Homo sapiens: one gene and its partners. The protein of the gene in region 3 interacts with the protein of the main gene of each other region in a biochemical or structural test. Each region holds a gene or a part of one and is shown on either strand. Other genes may lie near its edges.

Region 1 (3,500 bases), on a different chromosome or scaffold from region 3:
AACATCTTCTAGTCTTTCTCTTTTTCAGGAGATAGTAGCGAGTTACTCCTCAAGGAAGGGTAAAACAATATACTCTTTAAAATTATAATGACATGAGTTCATTTTAATATTCTAAGAAGGATTCGTTGAGCTATGTCAATTCATACAGGACTTGAAAGTGTTATGCTTAATTAGGAGATGGGTTTATTTTTAGAGAAATAGGAGATGGATATGACTCATTTCCATTTAAGCAAGGGTTGGCGGAATAATTATAGTGAAGTTGTGAAGAAACAAAGACTGAGATGTTAATTGTACTGTGAGTTGCTGCTCTGTAACCTTAGTGAAAGAATAAATGCACTTAGCTTAAGACACAGAAGACAGTAGCCCATAATTTGGAACACAGCCTTCATTTGTCAGTGCTGGCTACTTAAAATAAGAAGGAATATTCACTACTACTGTAATGTTGGATTACTTAGTCAAGCAAATGAGGTTCTTGTAGATTTAGTAGTGAGACAGAAAAACCATCTTCAGTTCTTCTAATCCTTTTTCTTTTCTATGCGTTGTAACCACAAAGTTTCCATGGGGAGTAAGGAATGTTCAGCTTTCCTAGATATGATGGATCTTAAACCTGAGTTCTTAGAGAATTGGATTTGGGAGCTTTTGTTACAGTGACAGGTCAGGGAAGACATCTACTCAAATGATTTGGGAAATACACGTGGGCTACTCATGAGAATCAGAAAGAACACACTGAAGGAGTATAGATGAACTCATCAATCTGGTACATCCTATAGTTTAGAGAAAAGTGCCATCTTGCTTGTAGTTAACTCTTGAGAAGCCTAACCTCAGGGTCACACAAGGACACACTTCATCACAGGGATTTTTTTTTTTTTTTTTTTTTTTTTTAATGTCCAAACGATAACTTACTCTCTTGGATAAGCTCAGGACGCACAAGGATTGTACACACCAACTCTGTTTCAAGTACTTTAGGTACTTTCCCTCATTTAGTAAACAGACACTTGTTGCATGGCTACTATGTGTCATCTGAAAAGACACCATCCTTACTCTCAAGTTACTCATCATTCAGGAGCAGAAACAGGCATAGATACAGGAAGTGTCATGAACTTTGTTACACCGTTACAGTAAATCCCATGGAGGGGCATCAAGGAGGTCCATGCAATTGCCAAAGAGGGTAGGGGGGAGGGGAAAGCTTCCTGAAAGAGGAGATACTCTGAGTCTTCAAAAATACATTTCTATAGTATTCAGAAAAAAGAAATTAAAACTCTATACATTGTAGATTAAAGATGTTGCCTTGGTAGCCCAGGTGTTGCCTTTAGTTTGGCAAAAGTGCTGTTGTTTGGAGCAAGTTTTTTTTACATGGTTAGTTGTTTTGGACACCAAATTCTTTTTTTTTTTTTTTTTTCAATGGAGTTTTGCTCTTGTTGCCGGGTGGGAGTGTAATGGCGAGATCTCGGCTCACTGCAACCTCTGCCTCCCAGGCTCAAGCGATTCTTCTGCCTCAGCCTCCCAAGTAGCTGGGATTACAGGCATGTACCACCACACCTGGCTAATTTTGTATTTTTAGTAGAGATGGAATTTCACTATGTTTGTCAGGCTGCTCTTGAACTCCTGACCTTGGGTGGTCCGCCTGCCTCGGCCTCTCAAATTGCTGGAATTACAGGCGTGAGCCACCGAGCCCAGCCCTGGAAGCCAAATTCTTTGTCTCCTGTATTCCAAGCCAAAAGGACATGCTTTTTGTTTGAATTGATAGGAATCCTAAATTATTGACATTAGGATAAATGCTCATTGGAAATCTATTCAAATTTTGCATTGTTTTCAAAGAGGAAAGGCTGGGGTGAGGGGTGGTGGGGAGAAATCTACATTTTCTGCCACAGCTTTATTGTGCTTTTGAATTCCCCATGTGCCATCTTCATACCCAGGATATGTTTTAACCATAATTCATTGCCTATGAAGCTAACATGAAGACGAGAGGGCAAGTTGAAATTTAAAACATGATGCCTTTGTCAGTGGGAGTCTAATTTTGGCTGGTCTATTATAGAATGCAGTTAGTCAATATGTATTCAAATATGGAATGCATATTTTCTTTGTCCCCAAAATGCTCTTTTTCGGCATTTAGTGGGAATGTAAAATATTTTAGGAATTTTTATAATGACAAAGAATTGGGGACAAATTAATTATACGATAATAAGAGGCTCTTTAAAAGTATGATATATACATACAATAGAATACTTGGCAGTCATCATCTTTAGGATAGACAGCCACATTTATCAACAGAGAAAAATGTCCATAGCATTATGTTAAATGTCAGTGAACAAAGCAGGTTACAAAAGAACATGTGGAGAATAATCTCATGAAGGTAAAATTGTAATCACGTGTGTGTGTGTGACATCTATGTTCGTTTAGATAGATTAAAAAATACCCAGAAGAATATTGAACAAATTATTAGTATAATTATCTCTACATGGTGAGGTTTCAGGTGATTCTAATATCCATCTGTTACTTTTTTGTATTTTAATTTTTGCGGTAACATTGTATTAGTTTGGCAAAAACTGCTGATTTCAAAAGAATTTTGTTTTCAAAAGAAAAAAATTAAAGTGTAATTTACTTGGTATTTACCTAAAAGCGTAGTTTTTCTTTTAGGAATACATAACCCCAAATGAAAAAGGCTTAACTGATGTCAAAGTTATCTAGAAATACAGCCAAGCAGGGTCAGAGTTGATGTGAACTGGATTCAGCCTTGATTCAAGCCTGGTCTCTTTGGGATTTCTTGTTCTTCTGCTGCCTTGGCCTGAACAGTCCCTCTCCTCCCTAATTTTTCCTTTATTCTGTGTCTCTCAACCTGCCCTGCCCTGCCCTGGCAAGCTTTGGGTGAAAGGAAGTGAGAGCCTACAGGTCCTGGCCGGGTTGCCAGTTTGGGGAGGGTGGGAAGTTGGAGAAGTGGTCACTCGCTCTATGAAGAATAGAACTCTCTAGAATCAAGCAGAACCATAGTTTTAAAGTGATTTTTTGGACATGAGACACCCACATAAGCCAAAGTGTTGACTTTTTTGTCTTCTCCATCTCATGCTTGTTTCTGTCCTCGCCATCCAGGGTGATGAGGGTGCTTAGAGAAGCATCTTCTCTCTCTCTCTCTTTTTTTTTTTTTTGGCTTTTTGGCAGAAGAGAATTCCCTCCCACGTGACAACTGCTTGAACATCAGCTGCACCAATTTTTTTCTTAGCATTGCACACGTTTATTGCATAAATGCAAAGCAACTGTGGCATCTGAAGATTTACTCCCCAGCTAAGCAGCATCCATGAGACCTGTTTGGGTGCAAAAATGATTTGGACGCTGGGTAACAAAGGTCTAGAGAAGCATCTTCTCTAAGCACAGGAGGAGGCTGAAGACCAGGAGTCTGGTCTCAGCTTGGCCAATTAGCAGCATCGCCTTAGTCTTTCTCCTCATTTGTAAAAAGAGGGGTTTACACTGAAAAAGTGTGTACAAGTTTTCTAACTTACACTATT
Region 2 (3,500 bases), on a different chromosome or scaffold from region 3:
GTGGATTAGGCCACTAAAACAAATTCCCAGTCACTCCGACTCTGTGAGGTTACTTAAATAAATCCACAGTGGCCGGGCACCGTGGCTCACGCCTGTAATCCCAGCACTTTGGGAGGCCAAGGCGGGTGGATTACACGAGGTCAGGAGTTTGAGACCAGCCTGGCCAACATGGTGAAACCCTGTCTGTACTAAAAATGCAAAAATTATCCAGGCGTGGTGGTGGGCGCCTGTAGTCCCAGCTACTCGGGAGGCTGAGGCAGGAGAATCGCTTGAACCCAGGAGGGGGAGGTTGCAGTGAGCCAAGATTGCACCACTGCACTCTGGCCTGTGTGACAGAGTAAGACCTGTCTCAAAATAATAATAATAATAATCCACAGTAAAATACAATCATTTCAGTCACTTTGACCATTTTACGAGTCTGTTTTAAGGACTGACTGGTTGATTCCATGTTTGCTTCAAAATTGCCAGTTTAATCAGGGACTATTGGTAGGATTGCCCACAGACCACTTTTACAACAGGTAATTCAATCAGTTTAAATATTGTATTTCCATTTTTTTTCCATCTGTTTTTGCAGCGCCAGCCAGCCTTTGACACCTTTGATGGGTCCCTGTTTGCTGTTTTTCCTTCTCTAAATGAAGAGCAAACACTGCAAGAAGTGCCAACAGGCTTGGATTCCATTTCTCATGGTAATTGGTTCCTCAGACTTGACAAATTGTGCATGATTTTCCTAAGTAGTTCAGTTAATAAAGAGATGACAGTTCCTAAGTGAGAAATGTTGGTATCTGGAATCTTTGATATGAATAGCCAGAAGTTCTGGACCTGGGAGAAGGCAGTTTTTCATTTGTATCAACTTGGTGATTCTGATGTGGATTCTGATGTCTTGAGTGCCAGACGCCCCCCAGTGAGCCGCTGTTAGGAAACTGCAGGGGAACCCCTGAGCTGCCCCTCCTGGATGTTTTCAACATTGGCAAGCAGGTCCTCATCTCCCTGCTCTGCCCTGGAAAACAGACAGAAGAGTAGACATTAAAACACACCCAAACTTGTAATTTGGGTTTGCATCATTAGTTAAATCATCTCCCCTGCCCTGAGTTTTGGGGCAACAAATTGTTCTTTGTAATCCTTACCCATCGGTAGTTCTTTCTGTAGTTCTTCGTGTCATTGTTTATTCTTCTTAAAGGAATAGCACGTCAGATAATGTTCATACAATTACTGTGACAGAGCTATTAGTTGGAAACATGCCAGAGATGACTGTGTCATGTGAAGTAGGTGCTGAGAATACAGGCCAGAAAATTAATTAAAACGCATACACTGGCGTAAGCATAACCCTGCATGGCAGCCATTTATCATTCTTGAAATTGCTGAGGGTGTCTGGAGAAGATTGTTTTTCAATAAAAATGGAAGGTGTGGTTCCATTACCGTGCTAAGTGCGGCACATTCATATCACACTCACTTCTCAGCTCTACGCCTAGTTTAATGGAAGTGACTTCCAAATGATACAGTCCCTTCAGCCTTTTGACCAGAAACCATGCAACTGTTTTCATTGCCTACAATTTTAAAATAGACTTAGCAGTTTTCCCTACGCACAACTGCTTTGTGACGCTTTGCAAAATAGAATCAAATCTGAGTTTTATTTTAGATTTTTTTAATAAGTATAGTTCTGAGATATATATTTTCTCAATTATAGTCAGAAAAGTTTTTTGTTAATAGTTACACTGTTTTAAGGAATCATGCCAAGGTTTGAGATCAAAATTGTTCTTTTCCAAAAACTAAGATGTCTCTCCTAAATCTCCACCTGATATCACCAACTTGAAGTCCTAATGTCCCCATGGGGGGTTTCCTTCCAGACTCCGCCAACTGTGAATTGCCTTTGTTAACCCCGTGCAGCAAGGCTGTGATGAGTCAAGCCTTAAAAGCTACCTTCAGTGGCTTCAAAAAGGAACAGCGGCGCCTGGGCATTCCAAAGAGTAAGTACTGCTTTCCTGAGCCTGCACTGGGTGAGAAGAACCAACTTCAGTGCAGTTGTTTGATCTTGACTTGTTTATTAAGCTTTTGCTTGGGGTATTCTGCAAAGAGTAGCATGGATGTCGTTAACCTGAGCCAGTTTCTGTTTCACCCCAATCAACCCAAGACTTGATCCAGAACTCATTAAATATGTAGTAGAAGGACGCATTACTGGTGTCTTGAAATGTGCCTGGGTCGTGTCAGAATGGTGACGTGTCATCATGGTATCTTGCTCATTCGTGGGTTCTGGTGTATGTCGGTACTTGGTGCATAAATTAGGGATGACAGTGGTCTCACTACCTTTCCACTGTTTTTACCTCATGTGTTCCATTTTTTCTTCTCTCCTGGTAGACCCCTGGCTGTGGAGTGAGCAACAGGTATGCCAGTGGCTTCTCTGGGCCACCAATGAGTTCAGTCTGGTGAACGTGAATCTGCAGAGGTTCGGCATGAATGGCCAGATGCTGTGTAACCTTGGCAAGGAACGCTTTCTGGAGCTGGCACCTGACTTTGTGGGTGACATTCTCTGGGAACATCTGGAGCAAATGATCAAAGGTACCAGCTGAACGTCTTACTTCTCCTTGTCCAGGATGAGCTGTGGCCGGGAAGACTGATTGGGAAAGTCACGTGGGTGTTCTTCAACCTTAGGGTTGCCACTTGAAATGACATAGAGTACCTTGCCTCAAAATGCCACTCAAGTGAGTCAGATATATGGCAGTGATTATAGATTTTTATCCCACTTTATGTGAGTGTGTGTGTGTGTGTGTGTGTGTGTGTATAGCATCAAGTATAGCCACAAGGTAGTAGCCTTAGTCACTAAATTGTTTGCTATTGCTGGCTGTATTCATCACGGGAGTCCATGTTGACTCAGATATGTAGGACAGCAAGAATTCCCACGTCTTCTGAGCTCACCTTACAGAGCTAAGAGATATGGCAGCCTTAATGAAAGGGGGGAGCCTTTACTCACATAAACCCTGTGAATTCTACTGTAAATTTTCCTACATCCAAATGGAATGTATTTTGGATGTTGAGGATTGTTGAGGGGGCGGGGTCTGTTTTTAAACAAGTGAGAAATTGATATATATTTACACGCTATCATATTGTACAGAAACTGGCCATTGATCAGTAGAAATCTCACCAAATACAGAGAAAGTCTTGATTCAAAACTTAAAATAGCAGGGAGACCAATGTTTAAAACATGTTGAGTTAAAAAAGAAAAGAGGGCCAGGTGCGGTGGCTCACACCTGTAATCCCAGCACTTTGGGAGGCGGAGGCGGGCAGATTACTTGAGGTTAGGAGTTCAAGACCAGCCTAGCCAATATGGTGAAACCCTGTCTCTACTAAAAATACAAAAAATAAAAATATTAGCTGGGCATAGTGGCACATGCCTGTAATCCCAGATACTCGGAAGCCTGAGGCAGGAGAATCCCTTGAGCCCGGGAGGCAGAGGTTGCAGTGAGTCGAGATCACACCACTGCACTCCAGCCTGTGGGAGTGAGACT
Region 3 (3,500 bases):
GGCAGGTGGATCACCTGAGATCAGGAGTTCAAGACCAGCCTGACCAACATGGTGAAACCCTGTCTGTACTAAAAATACAAAAAATGAGCCAGGCGTGGTGGCGGGTGCCTAGCGTAATCCCAGCTCCTCAGGAGGTGGGGGCAGGAGAGCCACTCGAACCAGGGAGACAGAGGATGCGCTGAGTCGAGATCATGCCATTGCACTCCACCCTGGGCAACAACAATGAAACTCTGCCCCCCGCCCGCAAAAAAAAAAAAAGAAAAAAGAAAAAAAATGTTCCTCCTGCCCCTTGCTGTTAAACCTTCCCTGCCCCAGGCGACCACTAATCTACTTTGTCTCTCTGAATTTGTCTTTTGTGAATCCTTTGTGTAAACGGAACCCTGCAGCGTATGCTGTCTTGGGTCTGGCTTCCTTCTCTAGCCCTTGGTTTCTGTACTCTAGACCTGCCCCATTCCCTTCTGAAACTTGAAAAGGATAGGGGCATTTGATCAAAGTGTCTTGAACAGAATGAATGAGGTTTATGTTGACATTGACCCTTGGAGAAAAATAGTCAACCGAACTGCCTTTACAGTGCACAGGAGGAAGGGGATGGCATTGCCTTGATGAGCCATCATATTCCCTGGTTCTTTAATGAGGCCTCAGGTTTCTTTTGCAGCCTCGGCCCTGCCCTGTGTGTGCACCCCAAGGGAGAAGTGTTGCAGGGCTAATTTGCAGGCTTGCATTTGCTCAGGATAAAGTTCGAGCCTTGCCCCCACCACACCCAGCTTTGTGGGCATTCATTCTCTCTCTCTGGTTACTTCTGTCCTGGCTTTAGTCCTTGCTCCTCTGCTATAACTCCTTAAAGGCAGGGCCGATTTCACTGGCACGTTCATCTGACGTGTGTGCGTGGGTCCTGCAGGTATGTGACAGGGCACATCTGGGCCTGTCCTCCAAGTGAAGGAGATGATTACATCTTCCATTGCCACCCACCTGATCAAAAAATACCCAAGCCAAAACGACTGCAGGAGTGGTACAAAAAGATGCTGGACAAGGCGTTTGCAGAGCGGATCATCCATGACTACAAGGTACCCGGCGCTGAAGGAAGGTGGTGGCTTTTGTCACAACTGAGGGGAGGATATTTGTGTGCCTTTTTCTTGCATTCGCATACTTGTTAATTACCTTCACTTATGAGGATTAGAAAGCAGAAAAATAAAAGCCTAAAGTGAGAACTTAGAAGCATTTTCTTCAGCTGATTGAGGCTTTCCCCTGGCCGTCTGAGAGCAGCACAGTTGGAGCTGTTTCCATCAGTGGGCATTGGGGCCTGTGCATCACTGTTGCACACATAGGGGCTCCAGCACTGTGGTGGGGGGTGCACATGTGTGGGGGTCTGCTGCACTGTGGTGGGGGGGCACACATGCATGGGACTCTGCCACACCATGGTGAGGGGCACGCTTGCGTGGGGGTCTGTCGCACCATGGTGGGGGGCACGCGTGCATGGCCCTCATCTCACTGTTGTGCTTTGCCCACTCAGGATATTTTCAAACAAGCAACTGAAGACAGGCTCACCAGTGCCAAGGAACTGCCCTATTTTGAAGGTGATTTCTGGCCCAATGTGTTAGAAGAGAGCATTAAGGAACTAGAACAAGAAGAAGAGGAGAGGAAAAAGGAAGAGAGCACTGCAGCCAGTGAAACCACTGAGGTACAGACCCTTCTCTGAGCTCCATTGCCCACGTGTCCCGCTGGAGCTGCAGGGTGGCAGGCTGGGAGGCGCGTGTCGACTGTTAGGTCCTTCCTGTGGTGGTGTCTCCGTTCACACATGCACGTCGACACCACCTGCAGCACAGGGCGTTGGTGGGCAGCAGTGTGGGCTCTGCACTCTCTGCACAGTGGATGCTCTGGGGAGCTGGGGGTCCACTTAGACTCGGAGAGGGAAGAGAGGAAGACAGAAAATGGGACATGGGGCAGTCAGGACACAACCCGCTGATGTAAAAAGTGAGTCGAGGAGGCACAGGGTTGCCAGGCCTTATTCCGTGTTTGGTGGCCACTCTGCACATGATGCTCATGCCCTGCTGCCCTCTCTCCTTGGCGCTGCCCCTGAGTGCCAGGCAGTGCAGACTGAGCCAAACAAAACCCCATCCCTGGCCAGGCGCGGTGGCTCACACCTGTAACCCCGCACTTTGGGAGGCCGAGGCAGGCGGATCACAAGGTCAGGAAAGGGAGACCAGCCTGGCTAACACAGTGAAACCCCATCTCTACTAAAAATACAAAAATTTAGCCGGTTGTGGGAGGGGGCACCTGTAATCCCAGCTACGAGGGAGGTTGAGGCAGGAGAATCGCTTGAACCCGGGAGGCGGAGGTTGCAGTGAGCCTAGATTGCGCCGTTGCACTCCAGCCCAGGAGACAGTGCGAGACTCCGTTTCAGAACAAACAAAACCCCATCTCCGCCCCCAAGGGAGTGGCTGTGTCCTGGTAGGATGTGAAACAAAAAGAACCCAGACCCAAGCATGGTGTGCTCTGAGCGTGGCAGAGCTCTGAAGGGGAAGGAGCCTTGGGGAGGTGGCGTGTGGGCCAGACCCGCCCACCACAGGAAGGTGCTGGAAGAGGACCCGCCAGGCGGTGGGAGGAGGCGCGCTGTGTGCGGGTTTGTGCGGCTGTCTGGGGAAGAGATGATGGTGGCGTGGGTGTGGGCTGTAGCTGTAGGTGCAGGGAGAGCGATGACGAACGTTGAAGGCTGCAGCCCCAGAACTTGGGACAGGCGATTGTGACCAGTGAGGAAAAGCGGTGAATGGAGGTGGCTCTTGCGTGGGCTGCTGCCATGGGTGAGGCAGCCGGGAGCCGGCTGGGGACATACTGCCACTCTGGTGCCTGTCCCATATGAGAGCACGTCTGTGAGGTGGGTGCCGGATGGGCTGTAGGCGGAGCGTGGGGCCTGGGCCGCTTCCGCCACACACACTCGTGCTCACTGCACAGGTGGTTGAGAGGCAGCCACCTGCTGGACGGCGCCCCAGAGTGTCATTCGCAGGACAGAGGAGGCGCGGGCAGGGGGTGGCGTGGGTTTACGCCCTAGGTGGCTCCTAAGCAGAGCTCCTGGCCTGTTGTCTTCGGACTTGCTCCCGCTGGAGTGTAGCTGGTCTCACTGGTGTCTGGTGAGTTAATGCTTGAGTTCCATCTCCTAAGGGTGACACGGGAGGTTACCGCGTCCGAGACAGGCTTTGCGCAGCTGAGTTCCACCCCAGGAGGGGGCACCTGCCTGTGGCATGGCAGCAGTGGGGTTGTCCAGAAGACAGGCCTGATAGGGGCTCCTGCTGGGGCAGCCTTCCCTGTGCACCGGGGACATGCATGTGTTAGGAGGCGGGATGCTGAGGTGTCGGCATGTAGACCTGCTGTCCCTTGTGTGTTTGGTTCATGGACAACAATGGGCAGGGACATGCCTTCGTCAGCAACACCCCAGGAGCTCGCTCTGGGGGTCAGCCTTAGTGAGGGCTGGTGCGTGGGGTGGAGCACTGCTTTGCTATTAGCTC
Region 4 (3,500 bases), on a different chromosome or scaffold from region 3:
CCAAGATCATGCCACTTCACTCCGGCCCAGGCAAAAGAGTGAGAGTCCATCTTAAAAAAAAAAAAAAAAAAAAAAAAAAAATACAGATTAGGCATTCCTAATCTGAAAAATTTGGCTCCAAAATGCTCCAGTGAGCATTTCCTTTGAGTGTCATGTGGGTGCTCAAAAAGTTAGATTTTGGACCATTTCAGATTTCAGAGTTTTGGATTAGGGATGCTCGACTGGTAAGTAATGCAGATATTCCAAAATCTGGACAAATCTGAAATCCAAAATGCTTGGAATAGCAGATACTCAACTGGTAGCACTCCCTGGAAGAATATGCACCAAACTGATAGCAGTGGTTACTTCTGGAGAGGAGGGGAAAGAACCAAGATTAGCAGTAGGATCAACATATATTTTAATGTTTTCTGTATTTTTATTACTTGTATAATTTAAACATTTTAAATTAGTAATAATGAACAATCATGAAACTATGGATGATTTAGTCCAGCAAAATATCCAATTGGGAACCCTCATCCTTCTGACGCAGAGCCCAAATGGCGCAGTGGGAAATGCTGCAGAATCTTGACAGCCCCTTTCAGGATCAGCTGCACCAGCTTTACTCGCACAGCCTCCTGCCTGTGGACATTCGACAGTACTTGGCTGTCTGGATTGAAGACCAGAACTGGTGAGGCCTTCAGGAAGTTGGGGGAATGAAAAAGGTGGTTCCTTACTTCTGGGCCCCCGGGATCCTGGAATCATTAATGGCAGGAAGGGGTTGGAAAGCCTCAGGACTACAGTAACACTGCAGAGACACTAATACTTCTTATTCCTGGTGCCCAGGCAGGAAGCTGCACTTGGGAGTGATGATTCCAAGGCTACCATGCTATTCTTCCACTTCTTGGATCAGCTGAACTATGAGTGTGGCCGTTGCAGCCAGGACCCAGAGTCCTTGTTGCTGCAGCACAATTTGCGGAAATTCTGCCGGGACATTCAGGTACTTGGAACGGTTGGGAGTGATGGGGTAGCACTGGGAGCTGAGCATAGAGGAGTAAGGTTTGGAGAATAGAATAGTACCTGGAGGTGGAAAGGGAGACGGGAACAAATGTGGGGAAAGGAGGACAGAGTCTGGACTTGGGGAATCACTAGCAGAGAGAAGGGTTGCATATACGTGACACTGTTGGGAGGATGCTATGGTGAAAAGACAAAGGGCTAAGAACCCCGAAGGAGGAGGAAATACTGTGGACATTGGTGGGGAGGGTCTAGGGCAATAGGTCATTGAGAGTGGTTGAATTGGATCAATCCTTTCTGTTTACCTATTCTAGCCCTTTTCCCAGGATCCTACCCAGTTGGCTGAGATGATCTTTAACCTCCTTCTGGAAGAAAAAAGAATTTTGATCCAGGCTCAGAGGGCCCAATTGGTGAGGACAATTCAGTGGTAATGTTGGAAACTCCTGAAGTAGAGAGGAACCATGGAAAGGACTCAGGGAGTTGTCTCAGAACAGGATCCCCCCGACATCCTGTGGTATAATTTCAGGCCTGAACTTAAGGCATGAAAGGCCAGAGTTAAAACGTGCTCAGAGCCTCTTTTTTCAGGAACAAGGAGAGCCAGTTCTCGAAACACCTGTGGAGAGCCAGCAACATGAGATTGAATCCCGGATCCTGGATTTAAGGGCTATGATGGAGGTTAGTAGATGTGGTAGGAGTTAGGGTTGACAGCGTTCAGCCTAACACCTCCCTGAGAAGCAGCCTCATCGGGGTCCTCTCCCCTCTGCAGAAGCTGGTAAAATCCATCAGCCAACTGAAAGACCAGCAGGATGTCTTCTGCTTCCGATATAAGATCCAGGCCAAAGGTAGGAAGCACATTGAGGGGCTGGAGAAAGATAAGTGCCTGCTGAGAAGCCGGAGCTGGAAGTGAACAGGAGAAAGCTCCGATGAGCAGTAGTCACTGTCAGACACACCCCACTGACTACAGTCCTGCTGCCGTGCAAAGCTGGAAGTGCTTTGTGGAGGCTGAGCTGGAGGTGCAGCTGAGAGACAGTAAATGTTGAGGAAATGCATGGAAAACTAACAGTGTTTTATTTGAGGGGGTGTCTGGTCCAAGCATGACCATTCAGAATTTGCCTGAGGGTCCCACAGGTGCCTGTGCTTTGCTTGGTTTCCCTTTCTTCCTCCACAAAATTCCTCCTTCCTGACTCTGACTGAGACCCCAGTCAGGAAGGAGAGGAAAGAACCCCTGGACTGACTCCTGTTCCCACCATCCAGGGAAGACACCCTCTCTGGACCCCCATCAGACCAAAGAGCAGAAGATTCTGCAGGAAACTCTCAATGAACTGGACAAAAGGAGAAAGGTGGGAGACAGAGGACAGAACATGTGGGCAACAAGGACCTGGAAAAATGAGGGATGTGGGGACCCTGGTCCTCTAGCGCTGGCTTCTTTGTTTCTTCATCCCCAGTTGGGTGGTGGAGGGTGAAAGGGAGAGATGCTCAACACTCACATTATCTCTTTCCCAGGAGGTGCTGGATGCCTCCAAAGCACTGCTAGGCCGATTAACTACCCTAATCGAGCTACTGCTGCCAAAGTTGGAGGAGTGGAAGGCCCAGCAGCAAAAAGCCTGCATCAGAGCTCCCATTGACCACGGGTTGGAACAGCTGGAGACATGGTGAGAGGTACCACCCCAACCCTCGTCCTCGCCATGCGCTGTGATTTGTAAGTTGCAGTGCCCTGCATATAGCAAGAGATACTGTTCTCTATTTGTCTCTGCTCCCCAGAATGAGCCCTGCTCCCTGCTGACTGCAGCTCTATTCTGCTCCTCATCCTCACCACGCAGGGAGCCCAGAGCCCAGTCTCCTTCAGGGAAAGGAATGAATTAACCCACAATCTGGTTTTTCCTTCTTTTTTAATCACCCAGAAATATATATATATGTATTTTTTTTTTTACTGCAACGAATACAATGACAAGAAAGGAAGGAAGGAAGGAGGAAGAGAAAATTACCTATTACCTAGCTTATTAAACAAAAATGGAATCATATTGTCCATACTATTTTGAAATCCATGGGGTTTTTTTTAAGCTTAACAGTATTTTTTATATATATATATATATATATATATTTTTTTTTTTTTTTTTTTTTTGAGACGGAGTCTCTCTCTGTTGCCCAGGCTGGAGCGCAGTGGCACGATCTCAGCTCACTGCAACTTCCAACTCCCAGGTTCAAGCAATTCTCCTGTCTCAGCCTCCCGAGTTGCTGGGATTACAGGCACACACCACCATGCCTGGCTAGTTTTTTTGTATTTTTAGTAGAGACGATGTTTCTCCATGTTGGCCAGGCTGGTCTCAAACTCCTGACTTCAGGTGATCCACCCAACTTGGGCTCCCAAAGTGCTGGGATTACAGGCGTGAGCCACCATGCCCGGCCAACAGTATATTATATTTATCCATGTTATTTCTTATGTCCACACAACAGTCCCCTATATGGTGGTAACATAATTTAATTAATGAACTCCTATTTTCAGCTATTTA
Region 5 (3,500 bases), on a different chromosome or scaffold from region 3:
CCAAAGTGCTGGGATTACAGGCGTGAGTCACCGCGCCTGGCCGATGCATTTATTTTCAACAAATACATTTATTCATTTATTCAACAAACAGCTTTTTCTGTGTGTCAGGCTCTGGACTAGGCAATAAAGTCTCTTAACAGCAAACAAGTACACCCCTGTTCCTTAATGGAGTTAGAAAAGTGGAAACTCATGTCCCTTGCCCTATTCTCCAGTGTTTAGAGTAAGACAGTTGTTAGTGTACAAATCAAGGGCACATGCATTACTGAGCCATTCCTAAAGTGAGCTTGCCTTGCTTCCTGTAACATGTAGCAGATAGCACTAGGGAAGATGTGAAGTGTTACTCAGTGTCACTGGGAACAATCTGTGTATTTTGGGGGGACCTTGGCACCAGTTTTGCACAGTCTATACAAACTGAAGATACGGCCAGTCTTTCAGAAACATGTTTATTGCTGAACAGATGTACACTTGTAGAGCTAAGCTTCATCTGACCTTAATTTGATCACTTATTGCCCTTTAATTACAGAAGCTGGTTAAGGAAAGAAAGCAGAGTTGAATAACTCAGTGAAAGGATCGGGAATAGTGTAAAAAGTTAGTTAAACCGAGACCCAGGATTGGACAGCAGTCTCATGTAGTGGAAAGGCCTTGGGTTTTGGAATCAGAGAGCCCTAGCCTAATATTTTGTTTCTCAGTTACAATACTGGGCAATTTACTACCAACCCCAGGCCCTTGGTTTTCTGACACAAAATGGAAGTACTAACCCCTTCCTCTTATTCAGTGATCACAATTCAAGTACCTAGAACATTGCCTGAGATATAAGGGTCCTCCCAAATGATTTCTTCCTCTCTTGTAGTTGTGGGTTTGTTACTTGGGCTCTTTCTAATCCAAATGATTTGCCTACACTGTTATTATGGACCTATTGTAAAATGTATTTGAGAAGCAGACAATGAACAACAAAGGCCTGGGATAGCCAAATTGTCCCAGTCCATAGCTTAAAGCTTAGGAGAGCCTTGGAGACCCTTAATAAGAATGTGTTGGCATTTATTTAAAGTGTTTCTAACAAGCAAAGTTATCTGGCTTCTAAACCTGCACTAGATTAGAAACAAGTAGATTATGGGTACTGTGGGAGGCTTAGAGGGGGTGTGGTGGGGGCTGGGGAGTAGGATGTTAGCCTAGTGTCTCTTGTCAGAAAAAACAGATAACAGCTCGGTGAGGATAATAGAGATAATCTACAAGACACAAAAATAGTCAAAGCCTGACTAGCATGTCTGGGGCCATTGAGTGCAGGACCAGACCTGAAAGCATAGTAATGAATGTTCATCAATTAGCCTAAATCATGTTTGGGAAAATCTTTTTAAGAGTGCAATAATCTACGTAATATACTTTAGATTGTCACTCAGGATGATTAAGAAATGTTCTTAAAGGGGTTGAAGATTGTGCTATAGCTTATGGCTTATTTCATGAAAGATCACAGTAGCTGTTATGACCAAGATGTTTTTCATTTGTTTTGCCATTCAGACAGCCATTCAGATTCCAAGCTGAAAGGGTAGCCAGCAGTAAAGAAAGGCTGTTTCAGTGTGGTAGCACCCTATGTCACCCCTTTCTTTGGTGTAAGTAATTTTTTTGTCAGTCTGCAGGAGTATCATATAAATTTTCACTTGTGCTTTGACAGTAGTGTATGCTTTTCACTGTGTTTTGAGATAGAGTATGCTCGAGATTTCTAGGATAAAGCAAGAGTGGATAGTTGGCCAGTCTCTCTGTTGAGGGTTTCTTGACTCTTGTCATGTGACTTCTGCCCAGTATTAGCACTGATAATTTTTTTGATCCCCTTTCTTGTAACCTTACCTCAGGGTTACTTCTTAAACCATCTACACCATCAGATAATTATTGGTGACCTTGTAATATGTAGCCTTGGCTGTTTTTAAGAATCAGGTTTTTTTTTAGCAGTAGTACAAAAGTACTAGCCTTTTTGGTTTAAAAATGCATAGTTAGAGGCTTATTGCTTGTCATTGATCAATTTTGATCATTTTTTCAGGTTGGTGTAATTGTGATGTATTCAGTTAGGACATAATTCAATGTTGATTCTAGATTTACATCTCAAAGATAGCTCGCAGCTTCAGTTCAGCAATTTCATGTAGGGAGAATATAATTTTTCCAAGCCAGGTGGATTTAGACACTGCCTTTAGTTTGGTCAGATAGCCAGAAATATTAGGGCAATTCTGTGTCTTCTGTGCTTGCCTCACATTGTACAGTGTGAGTGGTTCTCCTTGGCTCAGTGGGTTCCTCTTATTTGTAACTGAGGCACATTGATAGGACAGGTGCTTGATGTATCTTTAGGTTTGTAGTCTTAAGAAAATAGAAATTCTGACGTGATTAATTCTTATCAAAGTTTGTGAATTTACTGTGAAATTGTCACTAATTATCCTAGGTAGCCCTGTCATTTTTCAAAATCTGGTTTTACATTGGCCTCAAGGCTGTAGAGTAGTGGAAAGCGAGGATAGACTTTAGTTGCTTCTGTTTAGTACACGTGTCTACCTTAATGTAAAAATTTGCATTTCCTTGAATAATCTACAGTGTCATACCTTCCCTCATTTTGTGGGGAAGGGGGATGTAGTTTCACATTTAATGTATTCAGTAGGAATAATCTTGGGTGAACCACTGGTATTCCATCTGTTCATTAGTTTGAGTCTCTTAAGTCAAAAAAGACTCTTGATCTGAGGAAGTAGCATAGTGAATCTGTGATCTTATAGTTTGCCTATGTTTAAAAGTAAACTACATTTTCATATGCTGCTTCAGCTACTTCCAGAAATTCTGTAGAGACATAATGGTTAAGGTCTTGTAAATATCAAGGAAACGTTCCATCCTCATCACGTCTTTCATTTCAGAATGTGAGGTGGTGAGGCCGGAGGCAGTGGCTCACGCCTGTAATCCCAGCACTTTGGGAGGCTGAGGCGGGCGGATCACTTTGAGGTCAGGAGTTTGAGACCAGCCTGGCCAACATGGTGAAACCTTGTCTCTACTAAAAATGCAAAAATTAGCTGGGTGTGGTGGCGGGTACCTGTAGTCCCAGCTGCTCAAGAGGCTGAGGTAGGAGACTTGCTTGAACCGGGGAGGCCGAGGTTGCAGTTAGCCGAGATCCCGCGACTGCTCTCCAGCCTGGGAGACAGAGCAAGACTCCGTCTCAAAAAAAAAAAAGAAAAAAAAGAAAATGTGGGGTGGCAAATCTTTTTTGCAGAGCCTCCTATATAAAATCCTCATAAATGATGCAGTGGAAGCTGGGCCCGTGAGCCTTCTGCCTTGACTTGAGTGAACTATTGAAACTCTTTTGTTGACTAGAGATACTTTATCTGTGGTAGTAAATGTAAATTTTCCTTATTGAGATCCACTTTTAAAATTCTTTTTTTTTTTTTTTTTGAGACGGAGTTTTGCTCCTGTTGCCCAGGCTGGAGTGCAGTGGTGCGATCTTGGCTCACTGCAACCTCCGCCTCCTAGGTTCAAGCAGT
Region 6 (2,612 bases), on a different chromosome or scaffold from region 3:
AAGAAAAGTCTAAGAAACTGTCATAGACCAGAGGAGTCTAAGGAGATGTGACAAGTGAATGTAATGTGATATCTTGGATAGTATCCTGGAACAGAAAAAGGATATCCGAAAAACTCATGAAATCCAAATAAAGAAGTTGAGTTCATAGTAATTGTCCACATGGTTTCATTATTGTCACAAGTGTGCCATAGTAATGTAAGATGTTAACAATTGGAGAAAGTGTGGGTCCATAGGAACTCTATTAGGAACTTTTCCATAAATCTAAAACCATTCTAAAATTATTTAAAAAAATCTGTACAGGCCACTTAACCATGTGAAAAGCTACTCAGCCTTGCTGATAATGAGAAGTGGCACTGAGATACTATCTCACCTGTCAGGTTGGCAAAAATCCAAACAGTGACAATATATTCTGTGGACGAGGCTGTGGGGCAAGGTATCCTTGAACATTTATGGGGGTTTAATCTATTTTGCGTTGCTGTAAACGAAGACCCGAGGCTGGGTAATTTATACAGAAAAAGGTTTATTTGGCTCACAGTTCTGATGGCTGGGCATCAAGATTGGGCATCTGCACCTGGTAAGGGCCTGGGGCAGCTTCCACTCAATGGCTGAAGGCAGAAAGTGGGCTGGAGTGTGCAGAGATGACACAGATGAAGTGAGAGCGGGTAGGTGCCAGGCTCTTTAACAACCAGCTCTGGGGGGACTAAGAGAACTCACTCACTGTCCCCACCTCGGGGGACAATATAATAAATATATTAAATATATCAGGATGATTTACATGCACTGCCCTGATATATTTAATAGCACAGGAATATACACAAGAGAGTGACAGATTTGAATGGTCCCAAATGCAGCTGCAATGCTAGCCCACCCTTTTATGGGAAAACTGATTCTGACAGTTTTCCAGACTGTGCACACATTTAAAATTCCACACCCTTGCTTCAGCCAGCTTCCTCCTGGAAGGCAAAGCCAGCCAGGTGAGTGTTTATGAAGGCCCAACTGACCCATCAGCCCAGAAGCCAGGCCCTCCCAGTGCCAATGGTCGCAAGCTGGGGGCAAGTGCTTGGGGAGTGGGCCAGTTGGCATCCGAAACAGGGCCTGGTGGAGCAGCATGGGAGCAACTGGTAGTAGTAAAAGGAAAGAAACAGCTGAGTCTGTTTTTAACATTCATTAATCCAAAAATACATAAAAATTATTTCTGCTCCAGGTTCTTGGACTCTCAAGAAGGGGGTAGCTGCCAGCCTTGAGCATCTGATATGATACCTAAGTGCTCACTCATATTATCTCAGAGGACAGGGAGATGAGGAAGTGAGTCTCAAACCAGGGAAATCAGGGCCATGCCCTGCAGAGGCCCTGTGGGGGGACTTGGCCCACAACACTCTGGCTTTTGTTGCCAGAGGAAATGGGGCAATCACAAGAGTGGGCCACCCTTAGGCAATTCCTCCTATACAGCTAGGCCCCAGGGTTGGGAGAGTTCTTTCCCTGCTCATGGCTGAATTTCCCGAGAGCCAGGCTGACCAGACCAGAGACAGCCCAGGAGAGAAAGGCCCGGGAAGGCAGGGGCTCGGGCCTTTCTCCCTCTCCTTCTTGGCCCAAATCCACTTCCAGGAAACCCAGAGGTAGGACCCTGCAGCCAGCCAGGTGCTCATCGGGGCTGTCACATCTCCACATCAGTCCGCACCGCCACCCAGGAAGCCAGGGCCAGTCACCGTCTGCAGCCTTGTTATTGCATGCCAGCTGGGTGCATAGGCCAGGGCCCCTGGCCAACACCAAGGCCTGCTCCAGGAGGGGCCTGGGCCACAGGCTGCAACCGCTGCTGGGACTGCCAGATGTGATGGAGCTCCTTGAATTGCTCCACCATGCGGTCTTTGAGGTCTGGGTTTGAGATCTGTAGCCGGATACTATCAGCTGACCAAGATAGCTCCCCTGAGAACATCTCCAGCAGCAGTCGAGCTGCTACAGGCACCACCTGGGAGGCAAAGAGGAGATGAGACAGGGAGACCTGTGGCAGGGCTGCCAGATCCAGCTGTGCATGAGGACAGCCATCAGGGGTGAGTAATAGACCGCATTCTCCGGCTCTGAGCCTTGATGGTCTCTGGCCGCCAAGTTCACACTGCTCAGGGAGCCCTGAGCCTCCAGCCTGGGGCAAGGGCCTAGCCCCAGGATTCCCCAGTTTTCAAGCCAAGGCCGACTTTGGGATAGGGGAGATGTACCTGTACAGTAATGAGCTTCTTCTCTCGGGGTTTGCGGTCAGGCCATTCTTCCCCAAAGCAGAAGAAGATCTCGAAGGGTGGTGGGGTGTTGGTCTGGCCCTTTTGGAACAGGATGAGCTCTGCATCAAAATCAAGGTCCCTAGTCAGAGGCTGGAACCATGCCCTGGGCAAGAGGCAGCCAGGAGGATCACAGCTTTGGGCCCTCACCATTGAGAAAATGCTCCAGGCTGAAAAGCTTGGTCTTGACCTCCCGCTGGATGGGGTTGGGGCATGAGTCATGGGCTGAGGCACAAGGCCCGCTCCAGAACACCTTGCACTGACACAGGCGGATGGCATAAAGGTCCTGGCCCTGTAGCTGGAGGATGAGCCCGCGGTCCAGGACATCCAGCAGCTGGTTCGTGT
Region 7 (3,500 bases), on a different chromosome or scaffold from region 3:
AATTGGCTAAATTACTAGTCACAGGCAAGAGATGTTAGGTTCATTATGTAGCTATGGAAGCAGAAGTACACTCATTGGTAGGATTTTTTTTCTTCATGTCATTTGAAATGCATACATTAGGATTGGAGTTTTTTGCTTTAGGCTTGGTTATATTAAAACTTTCTCTTGCTGTTTGGAGTCCAGGAAGCCCTGAATTACCTTCTTCATTTTAGTTATGCTAGAAGCTGGGGCACATATTAGTTGTCTTGATTAAGCTCTGAAAGGGGTTTGCTGAGGAGACAGGATCTTTTTTTTTCTAACATTATATATGAGAGAGAGTTCTGAAAAGACCTGTTATAAAATCAGTTTCAGGCACTTTTCCCTTGTATGCTGTTGTGTGTTTGAAGGTCAGTTTTAAAGCATTGGTGTAATAGTCTCATGGTTTATCTTTTTAAAAAGCATTGCCTCAAGAGAGCTGTGGATAAATATATTTAATTAGTAAAGCTAAAAAGTTTTGTTGTCTTAAGTTATTTCTTTGGTAGCAAATAAATCTTCACAAGAACCTAATTTTTTTTTTCTGTTGATTTTCTATTTTGGCAGGAACTTGATCTCAAAATAGCAATTAAGTCTTGTCGCCTAGAGCTAAGTACCAAAAACAGAGAACGATGGTGCCATGAAATCCAGATTATGAAGAAGTAAGTGTATTCCTTGACTTACATTTCCCTGGTTCTACAGCCCAACCAGATGTCATCATGGGGAAAGAGGCCAGGAATCCACTCTTCTCAGGATCTTTTTGGGAACATATATTTTTTTCTCTCATTAAATATATTCTATTTCAAATAATAATATCACATTAAGATTAAGAAGGTTTAGTTAAAATCAGCTAGGACACTTACACACTGTTGGTGGGAATGTAAAATTGTGCAACTGTTACGGAAAACAGTACGGTGATTCCTAAAAAATTAAAAATAGAATTACCATATGATCCAGCAATTCCATTTCTGGGTATATACAAAAATGAATTGAAAGCAGGGACTTAAAGAGTAATTTGTACACTCATATTCATAACATTATTATTCACAATAGCTGAAAGGTAAAAGCAACCCAGTATCTACCAGCAGAGACATGTATAAACAAAATGTGGTATATTCATGAAACGGAATATCATGCAGCCTTAAAAAGGAATGAAACTCTGACACATGCCACAGCATGGATGAATCTTGTGGACATTATGCTAAATGAAATAAGCCAGTCACAAAAAGACAAATACTGTGTCATTCCACTTATGTGTGGTACCTAGAGTAGTCAAACTCACAGTGAAAGAAAGTAGAATGGTGTTTGCCAGAGGGTGAAGGGACCAGCAAATAGAGAATAATTTTTAATAGGTGCGGAGTTTCAGCTTTGCAGAATTAAACAGTTTTGTGCAGTATAGTGATAGTAGCAAAACATTGTGAAAGTATTTGATGCCAGGCTGGGCATGTTGGCTCACACTGTAATTCCAACACTTTGAGAGGCTGAGGTGGGTGGATTGCTTGAGCTCAGGAGTTCGAGACCAGCCTGGGCAACATGGCAAAACCCCATCTCTACAAAAAATATAAAAACTAGCTATGTGTGGTGGTGCATGCCCGTAGTCCCAGTTACTTGGGAGGCTGAGGTGGGAAGATTGCTTGAGCCCAGGAGGTCAAGGCTACAGTGAGCTGAGATCATACCACTGTACTCCAGCCTGGGTGACAAGAGCAAGACCCTGTCTGAAAAAAAAGGAAAGCATCTTGATGCCACTAAACTGTACACTTAAAAATGGTTAAGGTGGTAAATTTTATGCTATGTGTGTTTTACCACAATCAAAAAACTATTTCATTTCAGTTAACAAAAGTCAGCTAGGGCCGGGCGTGGTGGCTCACACCTATAATCCCAGCACTTTGGGAGGCCAAGGCGGATGGATTACCTGAGGTCAGGAGTTTGAGACCAGCCCGGTCAACATGGCAAAACCCCATCTCTACTAAAAATACAAAAATTAGCCAGGTGTGGTGGCGGGTGCCTGTAATCCCAGCTACTTGGGAGGCCGAGGGAGGAGAATTGCTTGAACCCGGGAGGCGGAGGTTGCGGTAAGCTGAGATCATACCACTGCACTCCAGCCTGGGCGACTCCGTCTCTAAATAAATAAATAAATAATAAAAAATAAATTACCCCAACATTTAGTGGCTTAAAATAGCAAACATTTAGTATCTTATAGTTTCTGTGACTTAGGAATTTGGGAGTGGCTTAGCTGGGTGATTCTAGCTTAGAGTCTTTCCTGAGACATCTCAGGATATTGGTCGGAGCTGCAGTAATCCAAAGGCTTGACTGGGGCTGGAGTATCTGCTTCCATGCTCACTTATATGAATGTTGGCCAAAAGCATCAGTTCTTCGCCATGTGGGCCTCTTCATGGGGAAGCTTGAATGTTTTCATGACATGGAAGCTAGCTTTCCCCAGAAAGATCTTTTCCTCAGAAAGAGTGAGTGATCTGAGAGAGAGAGAGAGAGAGAGAGAGTGAACGAGCGAGCAAGATGAAAACCGACGTATCTTTTATGATCTTTACTTGGAAGTGAGACTCCATCCTTTTCCACCACATTCTGTTTGTTACAGTGAGTCACTAAGTACAGCCTACATTCAAGGGGAGGAGAGTTAAGCTCTTAAAAAGAGAAGTAGACATATTTTAAAACTTCCACAGGTAGTGTGCTAAGTACTTTACAGATCATTCTTCCAGTTATCACAGCAATCTTATATTTAGGTATTATTTTGCAAATGAGGAAGTTGAAGCTTATAGAATCACATAGCTGGTGGTTGGTAAAGTGTGGATTTGAAATAAATACTTTCTGACTCTAATATCTGTGCTTAATTCCATTTTGATTCTCAAACTTGGTTATGTGGCAGAATCACCAGGAAAGCTTAATAGTATAAATTATCAGGTCCTACATGTACATGGAAATTCTGTTTGCTTCTTTTTCTTTTTTTCTTTTTTTTTTTAAAAGAGATGTGGTCTTGCTATGTTACCCAGGCTTGACTTGAACTCCTGGGCTCAAGCAGTCCTCCCACCTCAGCCTCTGGAGTAGCTGGGACTATAGGCATGCGCCACCACACCCGGCTAATTTTTAATTTTTTGTAGAGATGAGGTCTCACTGTGTTACCCATGCTGATCTCGAACTCCTGGCCTCAAGCAATCCTCCCACCTCAGCCTCCCAAATTGTTGGGATTACAGTTACAACTACACCCAGCCTAGAACGCCAGATTTGACTTACTCACTGTGTGATCTTGTTACTTAGCCAATTTGTGCTTCAATTTTCTCCTGTGTGGTGAAAGTATTAATAAATCTACCTATAATAGGATTATTGTGACAAGTAACTGAGTTAATATATTTAAAATGTTTACTGCTTGGCACTTAGAAATGTAATAGTAGTAATAGTGATGGTATTTTTATGTGTGTTTTCTTTTAAAAAATTACTAATTTTTAATTATACAAATCAGAAATTAGAATATTATA

The links.
Region 1: the proteins of CREBBP (region 3) and ETS1 form a complex in vitro, tested with the Homo sapiens proteins (3 studies listed by BioGRID, with this or other methods).
Region 2: the proteins of CREBBP (region 3) and ETS2 form a complex in vitro, tested with the Homo sapiens proteins (2 studies listed by BioGRID, with this or other methods).
Region 4: the proteins of CREBBP (region 3) and STAT2 form a complex in vitro, tested with the Homo sapiens proteins (2 studies listed by BioGRID).
Region 5: the proteins of CREBBP (region 3) and SMAD2 form a complex in vitro, tested with the Homo sapiens proteins (2 studies listed by BioGRID).
Region 6: the proteins of CREBBP (region 3) and IRF5 form a complex in vitro, tested with the Homo sapiens proteins (2 studies listed by BioGRID and IntAct, with this or other methods).
Region 7: the proteins of CREBBP (region 3) and CHUK form a complex in vitro, tested with the Homo sapiens proteins (2 studies listed by BioGRID, with this or other methods).

Annotation. Positions count from the first base shown.
Region 1 is NC_000011.10:128,577,559-128,581,058, reverse strand, and holds part of ETS1 (protein C-ets-1), read left to right. Parts: intron 1-3,500. UniProt on the Homo sapiens protein: Transcription factor. Directly controls the expression of cytokine and chemokine genes in a wide variety of different cellular contexts. May control the differentiation, survival and proliferation of lymphoid cells.
Region 2 is NC_000021.9:38,812,429-38,815,928, forward strand, and holds part of ETS2 (protein C-ets-2), read left to right. Parts: intron 1-574; coding exon 575-686; intron 687-1,844; coding exon 1,845-1,964; intron 1,965-2,352; coding exon 2,353-2,553; intron 2,554-3,500. UniProt on the Homo sapiens protein: Transcription factor activating transcription. Binds specifically the DNA GGAA/T core motif (Ets-binding site or EBS) in gene promoters and stimulates transcription.
Region 3 is NC_000016.10:3,734,214-3,737,713, reverse strand, and holds part of CREBBP (CREB-binding protein), read left to right. Parts: intron 1-898; coding exon 899-1,064; intron 1,065-1,510; coding exon 1,511-1,678; intron 1,679-3,500. UniProt on the Homo sapiens protein: Acetylates histones, giving a specific tag for transcriptional activation. Mediates acetylation of histone H3 at 'Lys-18' and 'Lys-27' (H3K18ac and H3K27ac, respectively).
Region 4 is NC_000012.12:56,353,608-56,357,107, reverse strand, and holds part of STAT2 (signal transducer and activator of transcription 2), read left to right. Parts: intron 1-529; 5' UTR 530-536; coding exon 537-667; intron 668-822; coding exon 823-976; intron 977-1,304; coding exon 1,305-1,400; intron 1,401-1,575; coding exon 1,576-1,665; intron 1,666-1,756; coding exon 1,757-1,832; intron 1,833-2,244; coding exon 2,245-2,330; intron 2,331-2,493; coding exon 2,494-2,642; intron 2,643-3,500. UniProt on the Homo sapiens protein: Signal transducer and activator of transcription that mediates signaling by type I interferons (IFN-alpha and IFN-beta).
Region 5 is NC_000018.10:47,924,160-47,927,659, reverse strand, and holds part of SMAD2 (mothers against decapentaplegic homolog 2), read left to right. Parts: intron 1-3,500. UniProt on the Homo sapiens protein: Receptor-regulated SMAD (R-SMAD) that is an intracellular signal transducer and transcriptional modulator activated by TGF-beta (transforming growth factor) and activin type 1 receptor kinases.
Region 6 is NC_000007.14:128,947,927-128,950,538, reverse strand, and holds the end of IRF5 (interferon regulatory factor 5), read right to left. Parts: coding exon 2,418-2,612; intron 2,330-2,417; coding exon 2,211-2,329; intron 1,967-2,210; coding exon 1,721-1,966; 3' UTR 501-1,720; downstream 1-500. UniProt on the Homo sapiens protein: Transcription factor that plays a critical role in innate immunity by activating expression of type I interferon (IFN) IFNA and INFB and inflammatory cytokines downstream of endolysosomal toll-like receptors TLR7, TLR8 and TLR9.
Region 7 is NC_000010.11:100,223,097-100,226,596, reverse strand, and holds part of CHUK (inhibitor of nuclear factor kappa-B kinase subunit alpha), read left to right. Parts: intron 1-579; coding exon 580-674; intron 675-3,500.